Regions from separate parts of the Homo sapiens genome. Here regions 2 and 3 are each linked to region 1. Evidence: fine-mapped expression QTL. A gene starts in region 1. Each other region holds a variant in brackets. All regions are shown on one strand. Distances are from middle to middle.

Region 1 (6,881 bases):
AGCTCGGGGAAGCAGAGGTGTCAGGACCTTTTGGGATGGTTCTTCATGCCTGCAAAGCTCTTTTCCCTCTAGTCTAACCCTAATGACAACTCTGACACCCAGGCTGTTCTGCCCATTTCACAGATGAGGCCACTGAGTTGAGAAGCAGGAAAGTATAGGACATGGGTTCTTAAAAGTGGCCCCCAGACCAGCAGCAGCAGACTCACCGGAGAACTTGTTAGAAATGCAAATTATCAGGCCTCACCCCACACCTGCTGAATCAGAAACTCTGAGGTTGGGGCCCAGCAGTCTTTTTTTTGTTTTTGTTTTGTTTTTTCTTTTTGAGACAGGGGCTTGAGACACAGTCACGGCTCACTGCAGCCTTGACCTCCTAGGCTCAATCCATCCTCCCACCTCAGCCTCCCAAGTAGCTGGGACTACAGGCACACACCACCACACCCAGCTAATTTTTGTATTTTTTGCAGAGGTGGGATTTCACCATGTTGCCCAGGCTAGTCTCGAACTCCTGGGCTCAAGCAATTTGACTGCCTCAGTCTCTGAAAGTGCTAGAATTACAGGTGTGAGCCACGACGCCCAGCCAGCAGTTTGTATTTTAATGCAGGTGACTGTGATGCTCCCTTAAGTTTGAGAACTAATGATACAGGGGATAAGAACAAGAGGCTATGGAGTCACTGAGACACTGTGAACACTTGAGCAAGTAATAGCACTGCTCTGTGCCCAGTTTTCTCACCTGTAATGTGAGAATAATAAAAGTACCTACCTTCTAATCATGTGTGTATTGAATGACACAACATATGTCAAGGCCTTGGCCACTGTCTGGTTCGTGGGAGACAGCCAATAATAGCCATCATATTATTATTGCCAGACTTTACCATGACCTACAGGCCCTGTATGATTAGGCTACTACCTCCCTTTCCAGCATCATATCCTGAAGAGCCCCCTAAACTCAACATTTCAGATGCACAGAGCTAATTCCTTGCAGCTCCTGGAACACCCTTTTACCTCAGCGTCCTTGCAAGTGCTATTCCTCCTGCTGGCGTTGCTCTTCTATCTCCTTCACTTCCTTTTTCATCTAACTTCCTCCAGGAAGCCTTCCATAACTTCCCAGGCTGAGTGGGATGGAGGGCTCTCCTCTTGTTCCCACTGCCCCTGAGCCTCCACAAACCCCTGCACTTGACCATCGGTCTTTCCCATTTTATCACAGGCTCTTCAAAGATCAGGCCTTAGATAACCATTTGTCTCTAACCCCCGGCCTGTGCCTGGACAAGGTAGGCACTGAAAAATAAGAAAAGTGTCTATTGAGGGCTTACTATGTGCTATGCAAATCTATAAGAGCTTTACACATATTAACACATTTGATTCTCACTGCATTTCTAGGAGGTAAAGACTATCATTATCCTGCTTACAGATGGGAAAACTGACACAGAGGTTAAGTAGCTTGCTCACTCTTCGAAGGAATTCTTCCCCTTCTAAGCCAGGCTCCTTCACTGGGGGAGGTGTGTGTGTGTGTTCCCTGTGTCACATTGAGAGCACTGGACTGGGAGTTCATGAACCTATCACTCCCTGGCTATGGGCCCCTGAGCCACCTCCTTCCTGCACGGTGACTGTATTGGGCTGGTGCCCTCCCAATAGACCCAGGCATTGAGCTACAAATGAACTATGTCATGATTGTCTCACTTTGTCGACTTCATAAGGTCAGAGTTGCCTTTCCCATTTGATGGACAGAAAAACTAAGACCTATGGTCACAGAGCTGGCAAGCGGTGGGGGTGGGCCTGGAATCCAGCCTGGGAGTCTGAACCCAGCCCTGAATTCCTGCCCTTACCCGGGCTGGTCCTCCTGAGCCTGTCTCTAGTGCGCTCCAGCTCCCCACTCTGGGAGGGGTGTCCTGACTGCCTGCTCCTGGTCGCACTGTGTGTCAGGAGGCCCTTCCTTCTCTGAGTCTGCCTGTGGGGTGTGTTGCTTCCCATCTGTGTGGGCTCGCTGAGCCTGGACAGCACCTTGCCCCTTGGATAGGAGCCCCAGGGTGGGGCTGTGTCAACCTCTTCAGTCTGGCCTAGGGCTTCTGCTTCTGTCACTAGGAGCTCAGGGTGTGGAGCGGGGAAAATGACACCAGAGACTGAGCAAATCATTTCCTGGCTCTGTGTGTCAGTTTCTGACTCTAAGAAACGGATTTAACAACAGCCCACTGGCCCTGGGGCCAGGGAAGATGAAGGAGATACAGTGGGTGTGGGCCTGTCAGGCCTCCCTCCTGTTTTCATGACACCGCCTCCCCATTATCACCCTAGAGGCCTCTTGGGCTACTGCCATGATGAGGGGCCCCCTTCTGGGTCCTTGGGCCCCCCAGGGTCATCTCATCTGTCTCTCTGCCCAGCACGGTTCCTGGAACATGTTAGGTGCTCTGTAAATATTTGTTGACTGACTGACCGACTGATAGAGCCCGCAGTTTATTATTTTTTTTTTTCTTTTGAGCTGAATCTCGCTCTGTCGTCCAGACTGGAGTGCAGCGGTGCAATCTCGGCTCACTGTAACCTCTGCCTCCTGGGTTCAAGCGATTCTCCTGCCTCAGCCTCCCAAGTAGCTGGGATTACAGGCACCTGCCACCACCCCCAGATAATTTTTGTATTTTTAGTAGAGACGGGGTTTCACCATGCTGGTCTTGAACTCCCGACCTCAGGTGACCCACCCACCTTGGCTTCCCAAAGTGCTGGGATTACAGGTGTGAACCAGCGCACCCAGTCCGCAGATTTTTTTTCCTTTTCCTCTCCTCCCGCTTCCCGGTGGGACACCACACCTAGTCCCCTTCAAGCCCAACTCTACCCCAGCCCCACCCACCTCTCAGCCAAGTTGCCACCTTTCCGGGGGTCCAGGTCTCTACCGGTTCCATGGCCCAGCTCTGCCAGCTCGAATCAGCTCCTGTTTTGCCCTGCTGTCGCCGGAATTTCCGCTCCCAGAGCCCAGGCCTAAGGAGGGGCCGGGCTGGGTCCTGGGCGGAGCCTACTGCATACCTGGGCTCACACAGACGGCAAGATGAGGCACTGCGACAGCCATTGGCCCACGCCCGTCCGCCTCCTGCCCGGCCCTTCAGACATCCTAGGGCTCTGGCATCTCGCGCCTGCTAGGGGGCAGTGCCACTGGCCTCATATCGCGGGGTGGGACCCTGACCCTTGGGCTCCTCAAGAAAAAGCCACAAGAGGAGCGCTGAAATCAGTAGCAAAGCACAGAGGCTAGGGGGCCAGGTCCCTGGGTGCCTAGGCCAGCTCTTGTTAGCTGTGTGACCTGGGGCTGACCCTAACTTCTGCGCCTCAGTTTCTGGGTCTGTAAAAGAGATATAATAGACCGTACTTCAAAGGGCAGCTGTGCACAGTATCTGAATGGCTTGAAAACATTTAGAACTGGGGTGTTTAGCCTCCCTTGGATTTTGCAGTATGGACTCTGGCATCTGGTGAGGCCTGTGAATGCTTTCTCAGAATAGCTGCTTATAAAGGCATAAAACAGGCCGGGCGCGGTGGCTCACGCCTGTAATCCCAGCACTTTGGGAGGCCGAGGTGGGCGGATCACTTGAGATCAGGAGTTCAAGACCAGCCTGGCCAATATGGTGAAACACCATCTCTACTAAAAATACAAAAAATTAGCTGGGCGTAGTGGGTGCTTGTAATCCCAGCTACTCAGGAGGCTGAGGCAGGAGAATCCCTTGAACCCAGGAGGGGGAGGTTCCAGTGAGCCAAGATCGTGCCACTGCACTCCAGCCTGGGCAACAGAGCAAAACTCTGTATTATAAATAAATAAATAAATGCACAAAACAAAATGCTTAGGATTACAATGAGAACAATTATCAAAACTATATTTAAAAACAAATTTGGCCGGGCATGGTGGTTCACGCCTGTAATTCCAGCACTTTGGAAGGCCAAGGCGGGTGGATCATGAGGTTAAGAGATGGAAACCAGCCTGCCCAACATGGTGAAACCCCGTCTCTACTAAAAATACAAAAATTAGCTGGGTGTGGTGGTGCACGCCTGTAGTCACAGCTACTCAGGAGGCTGAGGCAGGAGAATCGCTTGAACCTGGGAGGCGGAGGTTGCAGTGAGCTGAGATCACGCCTCTGCACTCCAGCCTGGCAACAAAGCAAGACTCCGTCTCAAAAAAAAAACCCACAAAAAACAAAAAAAAAATTTGGAGCTGGGGAGTGCTGGCACACGACTGTAGTCCCAGCTACTCGAGAGGTTGAGAGGTTGAGCGGGGGAGTATCACTCAAGCCCAGGAGTCAAAGCCACCCTGGGCAACATAGCAGGAGCCCATCTCAAAAAAATAAAACCAGAAATTTATATTATGTGTTTACTAACATTAATAAGACTGGCCGAAAGTTAAATTTTTCTTTTTTAATGACCTCAGTGTGTTGTCGACCAGCTTGAATAAGGACATTAAACTGTGGGGTGGTCTTTGACGCCCCTCCTCTTACATATTGATCAGCAAACAACTAAAAACAGGGAATGCTGGGCCGGGCATGGTGGCTCACGCCTATAATCGAGACGGGCGGATTATGAGGTCAGGAGATCGAGACCATCCTGGCTAACATGGTGAAACCCCGTCTCTACTAAAAATACAAAAAATTAGCCAGGCATGGTGGCGGGCGCCTGTAGTCCCAGCTACTCAGGAGGCTGAGGCAGGAGAATGGCGTGAACCCAGGAGGCAGAGCTTGCAGTGAGCCGAGTTCGCGCCACTGCACTCTAGCCTGGGCGACAGAGCAAGACTTCGTCTCAAAAAAAAAAAAAAAAAGACAGGGAATGCAGAAGAGTGGAGAAGCCCTACTCAGAACAGGCAGATTCGCCCTTTGGTCACTGAACCACTGCTAAGCCTGGAGGTAACCAATTAATGGCGGCTACATCACAGGAGCATCTGAAACAGAAGTTGCTCACGAACAATTTAGTGGTGGTTTAACAACCACTGTGATTTTGAAATCACTTGAGCATAAATATTTTGAGATACTTGCAATAACTACAATTTGATATGAAAATATGTGATTTCTATTGGTGACTAAGCCAAAGATACTGCTACTGCTTCAATCCATATAGAAGGAAATCATAAATTTTGGTTAGAGTTTAGCAAAAATAAAAATATAATTTTTTCCCATCCAAGTTTATGGATCCCCTGAATTCTGAACCTCAGAGCAAGAGCTTTAATCTTAGAAAAATATCTGACACATAGTAAATGTTCATTTTCATCATCATCATCAGGTCAGGGGACTCCCAGGACTTTAGAATCAGATAAAATCAGCCGGGCGTGGTGGCTCAGGCCTGTAATCCCAGCACTTCAGGAGACCTATGCGGGCGGATCACCTGAGGTCAGGAGTTCGAGACCAGCCTGACCAACATGGAGCAACCCCATCTCTACTAAAAATACAAAATTAGCCGGGTGTGGTGGCACATGCCTGTAATCCCAGGTACTCGGGAGGCTGAGGCAGGAGAATTGCTTGAACTCATGAGGTAGAGGTAGCGGTGAGCTGAGATCGCGTCATTGCACTCCAGCCTGGGCAACAAAAGTGAAACTCCACCTCAAAAAAAAAAAGGCCGGGCGCGGTGGCTCATGCCTGTAATCCCAGCACTTTGGGAGGCCAAGGCGGGTGGATCATCTGAGGTCAGGAGTTCGAGATCAGCCTGGCCAACATAGAGAAGCCCTGTCTGTACTAAAAATCCAAAAAATTAGCCGGTCGTGGTGGCGGGCGCCTATAATCCCAGCAACTCGGAAGGCTGAGACAGGAGAATTGCTTGAACCCGGAAGCAGAGGTTGCAGTGAGCCGAGATTGCGCCACTGCACTCCAACCTGGGCAACAAGAGCAAAACTCTGTCTCAAAAAAAAAAAAAATCAGATAAAATCAGTTCCATACTCAACTGCTATGTGACTCAGCCCAACTTCTACAGCTCTCTGAATCTGTTTCTTTGTCTCCAGAAGGGGATTCCTAGGCCTTAGCACTGTGATGACATTAAGTACTTTGAAATCTGTATCATGGGGTAGATATGAGTTATTATTGCTTTAATTCTGTGGGGAGGAGCTACCTGTTGTCACCTACTTCAGAATTTCTGCAGCACCCCCAGTCATCAAAGCCTGTCACGACCTTACCTGTAACCCAGAGACCCAAAGTCTGAATTTCGCCCATGGTTGGCCCATGTAGTGTACGTGTGTTGTCATCATTTAATAACGTCACATCCAAATTGAGATTTCCAGCTTCTCTGAACTTGGCCAGCTCTGGTGATGCCATCCCACCTTCACACTTGGTATTAACAGCCTCTTTCATTTTGTGAGCCAGTTGGCTTCAAATTTGCAAAATGCCCGTCTCCAGCTTTGTCTTTTGCCTCAGGTCTGTGTCCCTTGAACACTCCGTGCTGCATCCTCGTTTAACATTTTTGCCTCTTCATGCAGCAGCCTCCCTGTGGCACTCTGGGGAAGTCCAGTAAATTCTAATAGAGCCTTTATCAGTGTTCGGTAGACAGATCTTGATTTCATCAAATATCTTTCCTGAGCTGCCACCAGAGGTGAGAACCAGCCCCCTCTCTCCCTGAACCACGGCGCCTTTACTCTACGCTCCCAGCATCTGCCAGGGTTAGGCAGTTAGGAACACAGTAAGTGGCAGCTTCTATTTATTTTTATCTATTTTTTTGAGACAGAGCTTTGCTCTTGTTGCCCAGGCTGGAGTGCAATGGCATGATCTTGGCTCACTGCAACCTCCGCCTCCCAGGTTCAAGCTATTCTCCTGCCTCTGCCTCCCAAGTAGCTGGGATTACAGGCGTGTGCCACCATGCTCGGCTAATTTTGTATTTTTAGTAGAGATGGGGTTTCACCATGTTGACCAGGCTGGTCTCAAACTCCTGACCTCAAGTGATCTCCT
Region 2 (6,881 bases), 95 kb before region 1:
CAGCACTTTGGGAGGCCAAAGTGGGCGGATCACAAGGTCAGGAGATGAAGACCATTCTGGCCAACATGGTGAAACCCCACCTCAACTAAAATACAAAAAATTAGCCGGGCGTGGTGGCGCGTGCCTGTAGTCCCAGCTACACAGGAGGCTGAGGCAGGGGAATCGCTTGAACCTGGGAGGCGGAGGTTGCAGTGAGCCGAGATTGCGCCACTGCACTCTAGCCTGGCGACAGAGCAAGACTCTGTCTTAAAAAAAAAAAAAAAACCTTCCTAGGTAATAATTATGGACATGCTAAAACAGGCTTAGGGTCTGTAATATAAAGAATGATGCAATGCACCTTTCCTCTGCCCCCAGAGCTCAGTAGGGACCTTTCCCTTTCAAACACTGGGGCTCTTATTGGGGTAGAGATGGGGAGGGCAAACAAAGAAATCGGGTTTGTGGAGGCAAAACCAAGAGGTCTGACTAATGTTGCTCACCTCCTTCACGGCTGTGCGCAGCTGCTGCAGGGCTGAATCCCTTCGCTGGGCCTCCTCTCTCAGGGCCTGGCTTGTTCCTTCTTCTTGAGCCACTTCCTGCTCTAGGCTCTGAATCACACAGCAAGATGTTGAGGGAACACAGTAGGGGTAACAAGTCTGGTTCAGACAATATCACCGCTGGCTTGGACTATATAGTGACGACTCACCCTACCTACACCCTCATAAGAAATCATTTTAGAACAGTCCTGATTTGTGACCTCCCATTTAAACCCTCCTATAGCCCTTGACCACATACCAAATAGAGGTCAGCTTCTTAGCAGGGCATTCAAGGCCACTGTAGCTCCTACCTACTTTTCTAGTCATATCTCTTTCCACCCTCCACATGGCCAGCCTCTACACCGTCACGATGAATGACTGGCCCTCATCCCTGAAGGCTGCAGTGTCAATGCTTCTGCTCACTTCTCTTTTCCTTTCTTCAAGCTGCTCTTCTGCTGTTACCTCCAGGAAACCTCCAAGGCACACCTGAGCTGTCTTCAATCTGCAAATCAGATCTAATTAATCCTAATCCTACCTTGCTATCATATCCATCATGGCTTACGAGTACATCTGCTTAATATTCTAGTTGGCTATGCACATGATCCTTCGCTCCACTCAAACATAACTTTCTTGAGGGCAGGGAATGTGCTATTCAGCTGAGTTCACTATTTACCGAGCACTTACTGTGACCAGCATTGAGAAGAACACCAAACAGTTCCTGTCTTTTAGGAGTTAACAGTCAAGTGCTCTTGACAATACTGTCTACTAAATGCTGTTCAGAGACATGGAAAGGGGTAGAAGAGCATACTCACAGGTACCTAATCTAGTGAGTTGTGTGTAAGTGTGTCTGTGTTTGTGTGTGTAGGAGCGGTCAGGGGAAGGGAGATATTTAAGCTTTTAAACTTCTGCCTCTCATTCTCTTCATTCAATTTTTCCTCAAATTTTGAAACTGATTTGAATGAAGTGTGAAAATTTTTTTATATTTCTCATTTGGTATTAATAAAAAAAAAAACTGCTAAGGAAAACACCTCATGATCATGAAATAGCCAAAGTGACTATGATGAATCCATCTAATTCCAACAAATTCACATATATATATATATTTTATTTATTTATTTATTTATTTATTTATTTTGAGATGGGGTTTCACTCTGTCGCCCAGACTGGCTGGAGTGCAGTGGCGTGATCTCGGCTCACTGCAACCTCCACCTCCCAGGTTCAAACAATTCTCCTGCCTCAGCCTCCCAAGTAGCTGGGACTACAGGTGCATGACACCACGCCCAGCTAATCTTTTTGTATTCTTAGTAGAGACAGGGTTTCACCTTGTTAGCCAGGATGGTCTCAATCTCCTGACCTTGTGATCTGCCCACCTCGGCCTCCCAAAGTGCTGGGATTACAGGCGTGAGCCACCGTGTCCGGCCTCACCTGATATTTTAATTTGCCTAAGTAGTCTTATCATAGGTAAATGTGCCATTTAAAATGTCAGGCTTTTCCAAACTTTGCAGAACCCCAAGGGTTCTAGGAAACCTATTTTGAGATCCATTAAAAACTCTACTAAAAACCTGGGATTTTAAATGGGTATGTATTAAAATGCTTGCCAGGCTTGACTACCTCCTTACAGGACTTGAAAGAGGTGAACCAGATAGACGTAGCCCAATCCACATAATGGCAAAGGCAAGACTGCAGCCTCCACTTATTCCCTCAAAACGAGTGCATTTCGGGTGTTTTGGTGTGAAAACTTTTAGAGTCCAAAGAGACGCTGAGTGAACCTGCTTTACCCAGAATTTCTTGGAGAACCCAGTTAAAGACACTCCCACTCTGGCCCAAAATAGAAACCTGGAGTCATATTTGATTCTTCCCTATTCTTCAACCCCTACATCTTGTCAGTCACTGATTCCGCTTGATGTTACCTCCTAAAGTCACTTAAATCTGTCCCCTCACATCTCCTCGCTGCTATGCTGCCTTATGCCAGGTTCCCTCATCACCTCTCACGAGAATTTCTCCAACAGTCCCCCTGGACCTTTCTTCTCTCCAGGATGCCAATCTTCCACACTTGAGCCTGAGTTGCAAACCTGACCACATCACATCCCAATTACATGCTGTAATAGGCTGGGCATGATGGCTCACGCCTGTAATCCCAGCACTTTGGGAGGCCGAGGCGGGCAGATCACCTGAGGTCAGGAGTTCGAGACCAGTCTGGCCAACGTGGTGAAACCCCGTCTCTACAAAAAATACAAAAATTAGCCGGGCGTGATGGTGGGCACCCGTAATACCAGCTACTCGGGAGGCTGAGGCAGGAGAATTGCTTGAACCTGGGAGGCAGAGGTTACAGTGAGCCGAGATTGCGCCATTGCACTCCAGCCTGGGCGACAAGAGCGAGACTCTGTCTCCAAAAAAAAAAAAAAAAAAAAAAAAAAATGCTGTAATAGATGCCCACCACCTACATAAAGAATAAAAGCTAACTTAGTTGATAGATAAGGCCCTTCCATAGCCTGGAATGCCCAGGTCTCCATTTACCATCTTAAAGTGGATACGTCAGCAGTATCAAACTGCTTGCAGCACCACATTCAAACTATGCTGTTTCATGTCTCCATGTTCCCACTCATGCTGTTCCTCCTATCTGGAATCCAACACATCCTATCCAGCTCCTCTTGTTTGCCTGGCTAACTCCTCATCCTTGTAGGTTCAGGATCTCCAGAAACCTCTCTTTTACCTCCCTTCCTCCCACTGACTCTCCTGCACTCCCCCAGGATACTGTGGGGACTGCTCTCACAGTACTGTGCTGAAACTCCCTACTATATTTGTGTCCTCTCAGCAAGGCTCAAAAGCACTGACTGGGTCTCATTCTTTTTGTATCCCTAACACTGAGCAACCTGCATGGCAGAGAACAAAATAAATATTGGCTAAATTCTAGAGATTCCATCATTAAGTTCTGCCCACCATGTCCCAAGGATTCCTGCTCACCTGTACTTGTGAGCGCAACTGATCCATCTTCTGCTGCTGCTTCTCCACAATCTGAAAGGCAAAGTTATCAAGGAAGGCTGCGAGCACAAGGCTGACGGTGAGGACAGAGGGCAAGGGGGCTGCACTAGGACATGTGGTCTGGCTATTAGACCATTAAGAGTAAGACCAGGATAAAGATTAGTGAACTCTACCTATAGGAATATAAACCAGACTCCTAATCCTGGCTAACTAGCTTCACAGTTGTGCTCCAATCACAAAGGTTTATACAGGAATGTAGTGTG[A/G]ACACATAACCACTACTGGGGGAAAGGGAACTCTCACCCTAATAACTGCAGGCCAGTGGAATCAATTTTATAAACAGCCAGTGCAAACTCTTGTTCTTTGGTACAAGGACATGGCTAAAAATTCAGTCTAATGAAGCTTGCCATTTCTAGCACTATGATGGTTGTTGTTATTTACAGCTCTGGTCGTACTGATTATCCAAGAAGGGACCCTAAATAGGCCTGGTTTCTTTGAATCATTTATGGGTCTTCTTTTTTTTTTACTAACCTGCAGTCAGTTTCACCAGCCGGCCCCTGGCTCTCTCGTCTTTGCTGAATTAAGAAACCAGGGCACCTCACTGGTTAGAACTCTGTTCAATTCAAGGGTTTCTGTATGGGCCTGAGCCATGAATAAAGTGCACCAAACTTTACTGCACCATTTTGGGTCATCTAATCTAGATATTCAGAGGCATATCACCCCTCCTCTTACTTTTGCCTATATTCTAAATGAGTGAAGTTTGCCTGTTACAAGGATGACTATCTAAATACAAATTACTATGCAGGGTGACTTCTCCGAAAAGAAAGAAAAGCTCTTGGTAACAAATCCTAGATAGCCCAAAGCCAAGAATTCACGTATCCCTCCTAATACACAATCTTCTCTTTCCTCCCAGCCTACCCTCCGTTACAGCCTGGACACCCTCAGTCACCTTTTGGAGCGAATCGTATCGCTTCTGCCAGGACTCCATTTCCACTTCTGGACCTTCTCCACTGGTCTCCTCCACAGACTGTTTATCTTGCAGGCTGAAAGACAGTGGCCTCTTCAAGAACTCTGAAGTTAGACACAAGTGGCTTTGATTCTTGGTTCTGCTACTTATTGCACATTTTGAGGCAAGACACTTAGTCCAAGCAGTAGCTGGGGATAATACTTGGGTCTGCTGTAATATATGGGGTGCCACACAAAAGCTGCTCAGTGTATGTTAATTCTCTTCCCTAAGGGCCAGAATCTATACAATGTGACACCAATTCTCTACCTGCCCAAGGCTCTTGTGTATTTTGTTTTGATATTTAAAAAATACATATTTATCACATGTATTTAGATTGTAAGTCATACATGTACATTGTAGAAAGTTTGGAAAATACAAAAGCTGTTTTCTTGGCACACACAGTCTGGGGCAAAGCCAACTTTGTCCTCTAACCCCACTTCTGACTCTAACCAATGGTTTCCTCCAGTGGGTCCCTACAATTACTTATAGCAAAGCCCATCTGCTGAGATAAACAACAGGGACACTGTGGTTAAATATGGGATGAGAAATCCAATCTATCCCATTAGAAACTGGATTTGGTCCAAGAGGCTGTTGAAACACACCATTATTTTCAGAAACTGCTATTAATATGGAGAAGGCTCCCAAGACATCCTGAGAGTACATTATGGCATCTTGTTTTGTTCTCAGAACCTGTCATGGCAATGGAGAACAATCCCTAGGGCTGAGGAGAAAGGCTCCTGGTAGCCTTTAGCCTACACAGCTCGAACTGTGGATAACTCTCAGTTCTTATCACCAGTACCCACTTTTGAAAGTATACAGACACCTCATTTCCCAGTTTACAAAGTGCTTTCATTTATTCAACACATACATACTAAGAATTATGTGCCAGGCACTGGGTTAGATCCTTACAAAGGCTATGAAGATAAGCCCCCACTGCATCCATACTCCATGCCAAAGATATAAAAGCCGCTTCCTGGCCGGGCGCGGTGGCTCACACCTGTAATCCCAGCACTTTGGGAGGCCAAGGAGGGTGGATCACGAGGTCAGGAGATCGAGACCACGGTGAAACCCCGTCTCTACTAAAAATACAAAAAAGATTAGCCAGGCGCAGTGGCGGGCGCCTGTAGTCCCAGCTACTCAGGAGGCTGAGGCAGGAGAATGGTGTGAACCTGGGAGGCGGAGCTTGCAGTGAGCCAAGATTGCACCACTGCACTCCAGCCTGGGCGACAGAGCAAGACTCCGTCTCAAAAAAAAAAAAAAAAAAAAAAGCCGCTTCCCATAAGCAGCTTTCCTATTATTCACAGTCCAAAGAAAACAAAGCTCAGATAAGTAAAATGATTTTCCCAAATCACCCAAAGTCACACAGGTAAGTGAGCAGGATGGCTATGACAAAAAACTTAACTCTCCACTCCTCTCAGTCCCACAGGGTTATTTACCTATGTCCAGCGGAGGAGAATTCTGCTTCTCTCTGCCTCAGGCTTTCCAGTTGAATCTCCTTCTCTCTGCAGATTGCCTGGGTCTCCTCCAGCAAACTCTCCAGCTCAGTCACTTTCTCCTGCAGCTCTGTGCTCTTCAACTCAGAATCCTTAAGCTGAGAGACAGGATCCCATGTTTAGGTCAAATAAGCCAAGTGTTATAAATGCAAAATGCTTGTTCCTCGGTGTCACAAAGAAATAGCACTCAAACCTATATTTAATTTCCTCAGCAAGGCAATTTTTACTTTCTGCAGAAAGGGTGCTCCTCGCAGATGGAACAATGGTGAGAACACAACTGGACAGGGGAGGGGAAGGAGTTCTTATTTCTGACGCAGGTAGTCCCTACTGCTATGTCGTTCCCCTATTGGCTAGGGTTGAACCACACAGTCTAAGCTAATTCTGATTGGCTATTTTAAAGGGAACAGGTTTATGAGCCAGAGTGGTGGGGTGAGTAGTTTGGTGGGAAGGACAGTTAGGAACAGGTAATTAAAGGTGACTTAGGTCAGAGCAGGTGACCAGGGTGACTCAGGTCAAAGCAGGTGACCGGGATGAGTCAGGACGGAGTAGGTGACCGGGGGAACAGATGTGAACTACTGATTAAAACTGGTGGAAAAGGTTGTTTACTGAAACTAGAAGCAAGAGGGCGAAGAGAACCAGGAAGTTAAACTTTAAAATAGTGAATCAAAGAGTAAGAGACCTGAACTTACTGATTCTTTGAAGAGAAACTTGGGGTTCACTTTAACATAAGGAAGACTCTGTCTGGGTACCTCAAAAAATTTGCAGTCTGGTTACAAATCTGACAATTATGAATCTGGACATGACTGCTTTGGGATTCTCCTTTCAGCAAGTCACAGGATAACTGCATACAGCAGATGATGAAAAAGTTCCCCTGCCTGGCCACTCCCTGAT
Region 3 (5,000 bases), 22 kb before region 1:
TGGAGTCTGGATTCCAGTTCCTCCACCAATAGGGTGGGGGACCTCTGTGGGGCCCAGGCTCTGCCTTATAAATGGTGAGGGCGTGAGGCCAGAAGACTCTGACGCTCCGCCCAGCCTTGACTCACATGACTTGGGGGCAGCCCCAGTACCCTCCCCTACATGTTGAGTTCATCTCGGATCTCCTTGTACTGCCTCAGGTTCTCCTGTATTGCCTCAAGCACCAAGCAAAAGTTGTCACACGTGTTTTCTGAGAGGTTCGACAGGGGGCCTCCCGCAAGGGGTTCCTGGAGGAGACCAGATTTCTCCGAGCGGGCGACCACACAATGCACCAGTGGCAGCTGGTCATTCTCCTCCTCTTCCTCTGCGCCTGTCTGGGAAGCGGGGGATAGAGAGGGGTCGGGACAGCTCAGGCAGGCACGCCCCCGGCACCCTTTTCCTGCTTGGCTTCAGGATGAGTCTCTTAGGACCCCAGGGTTCTAAGGCCCTCATTTCAGCTCTCACCAATCTTAGCCTCACTGCCTTGCTGGGGGAACCCAACTTTAAATGCACATGACCTCCCCCCACCTCTTTAAAAATTCTCACCCCATTTCAAAATTTAGCCCTGCCCCAGATTTCAACCCTGATAAACCCTACCCAGCAAATTTATAAAGCCCTGCCTACCCTCAAGCCCAGGCCTCCAGCACTCCACTCTTTTAGAAGTACTCCACCCCTTTCCCCAACCTTATGGAAGTACTGCCCTGAATGAATAATACCGTAGCTAACATTTATTGAGTGCTTACTATGCGCCAAGCACTGTTCATTTACCCATTAACCCTCATAAAATAACCCTATGAGTTAAGTACTATTATTATTCCCATTTTACAAAAGAAAAAAATTGAGGCTTAGAGTGGGTAAATGCCCCAAGGTCACCCAGCTGCTCAGTTTTGAGTTGCCATAGAAATCTAACATCTAGAAAATCCACACCCCTCAGAAGCCCCAGTTGGTGGGTGGGCACTCAAGATGGGGGGCTGCTGCCTCCAGGCCTCCAACTTGGCTTTCTCCAGGCCCTTGATTATGCAAGCACACACATACATGCACATATGTTCAAGTCCGCTCTCATACACACTCCTTTTCCTCCCTTCTGCCCTCCCCATCCCACGCACCTCACTAAAGGTTATTCGTTGCTGTTGTCCCTGCTCTCCTGCCTTCATCATTTGCTCCAGGTTGGTGGTCACCACGATGACGAACAGGTTGATGCCAATGAAGGCACCGATGGTGATGAAGATGGTAAAGTAGATGGCACCCCCAATCTCCATTGCATATTCCCTCTTCTCTGTCCTGCAGATGGCAGGCAGGGGCCCCATCATTTCCCTGGCCCTTCAAGCCTGAGTTTCCTTGTCATTGAAATGGGAAAATCATCCCAAGGCCTACTAGAACTTCTGCCTGTGTCACTGCTGTTGTGCAGATCCCATTCCCTACTCCTGTCTCAATAGCTGCTCTCTACTAAGCACCTACTGTGCTGCCAGACAGTGAGCTGATTCTCTAACCAACCCTGCAAGGTGGGGACGTGCACATCAACACTATTAAGTTTAATCTATTAGCTACACTCCTTTTTTTTTTTTTGAGATGGAGTCTCGCTGTGTTGCCCAGACTGGAGTGAAGTGGCGTGATCTCGGCTCACTGCAAGCTCCACCTCCTGGGTTCATGTCGTTCTCCCGCCTCAGCCTCCCAAGTAGCTGAGACTACAGGTGCTTGCCACCACGCCTGGCTAATTTTTTTTTTTTTTTTTTGAGACAGAGTCTCACTCTGTCACCTAAGCTGGAGTGCAGTGGCGTGATATGGGTTCACCGCAACCTCCGCCTCCCAGGTTCAAGCGATTCTCCTGCCTTAGCCTCCTGAGTAGCTGGGATTACAGGCGCCCCACCGTCCGGCTAATTTTTGTATATTTAGTAGAGACGGGGTTTCACCTTTTTGGCCAGGCTGGTCTTGAACTCCTGACCTTGTGATCCACCTGCCTCAGCCTCCCAAAGTGCTGGGATTACAGGTGTGAGCCACTGCACTGGGCTTTGTTTTTGTATTTTTAGTAGAGATGGGGTTTCACTGTGTTAGCCAGGATAGCCTTGATCTGACCTCGTGAGCTGCCCACCTCGGCCTCCCAAGGTGCTGGGATTACAGGCGTGAGCCACCGCGCCCGGCCCCGGCCAGCCTGATTTTTATCCACTACCTATGCCATAATGGAGAATGACTGTAGAAGCCCTTTATCTACTGGGCTTCTATACTCACATGTAGAAGATAAAAAGAAATCAGTTAAGGGGTCCCACTTTCTGGA[A/G]TAAACTGGAAAGAAATAGGGCTTAGACTTAATAGAAAAGAGGTAAAGAACAGAACACAAAAATGAATGTGGGCAGTGGGTTTAAGAATGAATGAAATGAGACCTGAAGTTCCCAGGAGTTCAGGCAGTTTGGTGGGCTCCAAGGTGGGCTGGGAGGTTGCTCTGTAACCTGAGGCATAACTGCAGACCTGCTGCCTTATCCAAGGCCAACTACCCAGCTGGTTAGCATGATGGGAGAGGTCCCCATTACAGGGTGGGAATGGGACTCTGAATATATGGAGATTCAAGGGTGACAAGGCTTCAGGTATCACAAGTCCAGGTATTTCCTTTTCCTCTGTTTAAAGACCTGGGAACCCCCACTTCTACTGGGCCATCCTCATCCCAATCCCTGGAGCTCCCACTCTCAGCCTGGAGCTCCACCGGCTACCCTGCCCCATAGGTGGGATGAGGCTGGAAGTCCCACTGGCACTCACTGGAAGTCACTGTAGATGTCCACCCAGCCGTCCTGGGTGATGCAGATGAAGAGGGTGTACAGCGCAACCTGTATGTTCTGGAAATGCTTGGGCACGAATGCACCAAAGAGTGTTACTCCAAACACGGAAAAAACCTGTCAGAGAGAAAAGAGCCCCACCCCGACTTCACCAAAGGGCCTGGAAATAGGACACACAAATGTCATGTAAATGAACGCTGCTGAGGAAATCACAGGGATTCAGGCCCACAGGCCTCTCTGCTTTTCCAGACACCCCTCTATTTGCAATGACCCAAGGGCCCTGTTCAGGGAAGGGAAACAGCTGGGGGCGGGGGCAGGCACTGACCAGCATGAAGAAGAGGATGAGGACCATGATATTGGCCATGTCAGGCACCGACTGCAGGATGACGCGGATGATCCGGGCGAGGGGCTCCACCGCCATGCACACATGCACCAGACGAAGCGCCCTGTGGCAGAGCCTGTCAGGGGTGCCCCTAGGCCCTTCCCAGCCCCTTCCCTCCTCATTACCCCCACCAGCTGCCCAGAGAGGCAAAGCTGATCTCCAGCTGGTCGTTATCCCCCCATCTCATTCCTGGGTTCCAGATAGGTCCCCCTCATTTCTCCAGAGCTCCCCGCTCACCTGAGAGTGTAGTTGATGGAGGGAATATTGATTTCATTAATGAAGAACCGCAAGAGCAAGATAAAGACGATAATGAAGTTGAGGATGTTCCAGCCGTCCTGGGGAGTGGGCCAGCCCCAGTGGGGTCTGTCAGGCCCAGCCCATGGGGGCATCCTAGGTCTGCCCTCCCCACATCCCAGGGATGAGGGCTCAATGTCCCTCTCAGAGCAGGGCCAGTCAGCTGCCATCCACTGCTGTTACCCTGCCGCCCCCCAAACAAGCCACAAAACACACGTGTACTCTCTGTCCCATACATGTGTCAATAGCCAAATGCAGTCTCAGAGACACACAGCAAAGACCCTTACAGATACATGGCTGGTCCCTAAGCTGAGTGCCCACCTTGGCTAAAGCATGCTCAAAACAGCCTTGCCCTACAGGTAGGTAACATGAAAACACTTGGCTGTTCCTGCCTTTGTGTGACACACACTACAATTAATAATAAAATGAAAATGGATACTAGTAAAAACATAAGGAATACTGCTTCAGTAGCCAGTTCTGAGGTGAAATAGCTCTCACGGCACAAGAAAGGGAGACAGGCGGGCCAGGCGCGATGGCTCACACCTGTAATCCCAGCACTTTGGGAGTCTGAGGCAGGTGGATCACGATGTCAGGAGTTTGAGACCAGCCTGGCCAACATGGTGAAACTCCATCTCTACTAAAAATACAAAAATTATCTGGGCATGGTGGCACGTGCCTGTAGTCCCAGCTACTTGGGAGGCTGAGGCAGGAGAGTTGCTTGAACCCAGGAGGCGGAGGTTGCAGTGAGCCAAGATTGCGCCACTGCACTCCAGCCTGGGTGACAGAGTGATAATCTCAAAAAAAAAAAAAAAAGAAAGAAAAGAAAGAAAGGGAGACTGGTACATTTTGCAAGCCCTTTGTCCAATAAGACACTTACACAGGAATGAGATGGGGAGGAGAAGGAAACTCACAGGTATGAAAAATCTGAACAGGGATCACACTTCTAGAAATCTGATCCACAGATACTCTGGTTGAAGTACAAAATTACATTTGTATAAGGTTAAGAATAACCAACATGCCAGGTGCAGTGGTGCAAGCCTGTAATTCCAGCACTTTGGGAGGCTGAGGTGGGAGGATTGCTTGAGCTCAGGAGTTCCAGACCAGCCTGGGCAACATGGTGAAACCCTGTCTCTACAAAAAACTATAAAAATTAGACAGGGGTGTTGGCATGTGCCCCTGTAGTCCCAGCTACTTGGAGGGCTGAGAGGATCACTTGAACCCAGGAGGTCGAGGCTGCAGTGAGCCGAAATGGGTGTCATTGCACTCCAGCCTGAGCAACAGGGGTGAGACCCTGTCTCAAAAAAAAAAAAAAAAAAAAAAAAAAGGAAAAGAAAACCAACGTGTCAAATGATCAGAAGAGACTGATTGGATAAACTATGGCACATTAAATTCCATTAAATCAATGGAATACTATGTAGCTATGTAGCTATAAAAAGAAAAATGAGGCCAGGTATGGTGACCCTTGCCTGTAATCCTGGTGCTTTGAGAGGCTGGCGGGAGAGGATTGCTTGAGGCCAAGAGTTTGC

What was found.
Region 2: its variant is fine-mapped to the expression of CNKSR1 in whole blood (TOPMed, PIP 0.91).
Region 3: its variant is fine-mapped to the expression of CNKSR1 in blood mononuclear cells (TOPMed, PIP 0.97).

The regions. Positions count from the first base shown.
Region 1 is chr1:26,173,552-26,180,432 of GRCh38, reverse strand. CNKSR1 (connector enhancer of kinase suppressor of Ras 1) reads right to left here and starts at 2,942. Exons shown (of 21, transcript NM_006314.3): 1 at 2,834-2,942. The coding sequence starts at 2,885.
Region 2 is chr1:26,268,667-26,275,547 of GRCh38, reverse strand. It overlaps CEP85 (centrosomal protein 85), which reads right to left. Exons shown (of 14, transcript NM_001319944.2): 9 at 5,934-6,088; 10 at 4,441-4,534; 11 at 3,477-3,527; 12 at 477-584. Among named protein-coding and RNA genes, the nearest start is that of SH3BGRL3, 8.0 kb to the left of the region's middle. The variant A/G (reference allele first, on the strand shown) is at 3,758.
Region 3 is chr1:26,196,201-26,201,200 of GRCh38, reverse strand. It overlaps CATSPER4 (cation channel sperm associated 4), which reads right to left. Exons shown (of 10, transcript NM_198137.2): 4 at 3,418-3,515; 5 at 3,124-3,244; 6 at 2,782-2,915; 7 at 1,143-1,317; 8 at 160-371. Among named protein-coding and RNA genes, the nearest start is that of CATSPER4, 8.1 kb to the right of the region's middle. RefSeq lists an enhancer at 2,730-3,229. The variant A/G (reference allele first, on the strand shown) is at 2,309.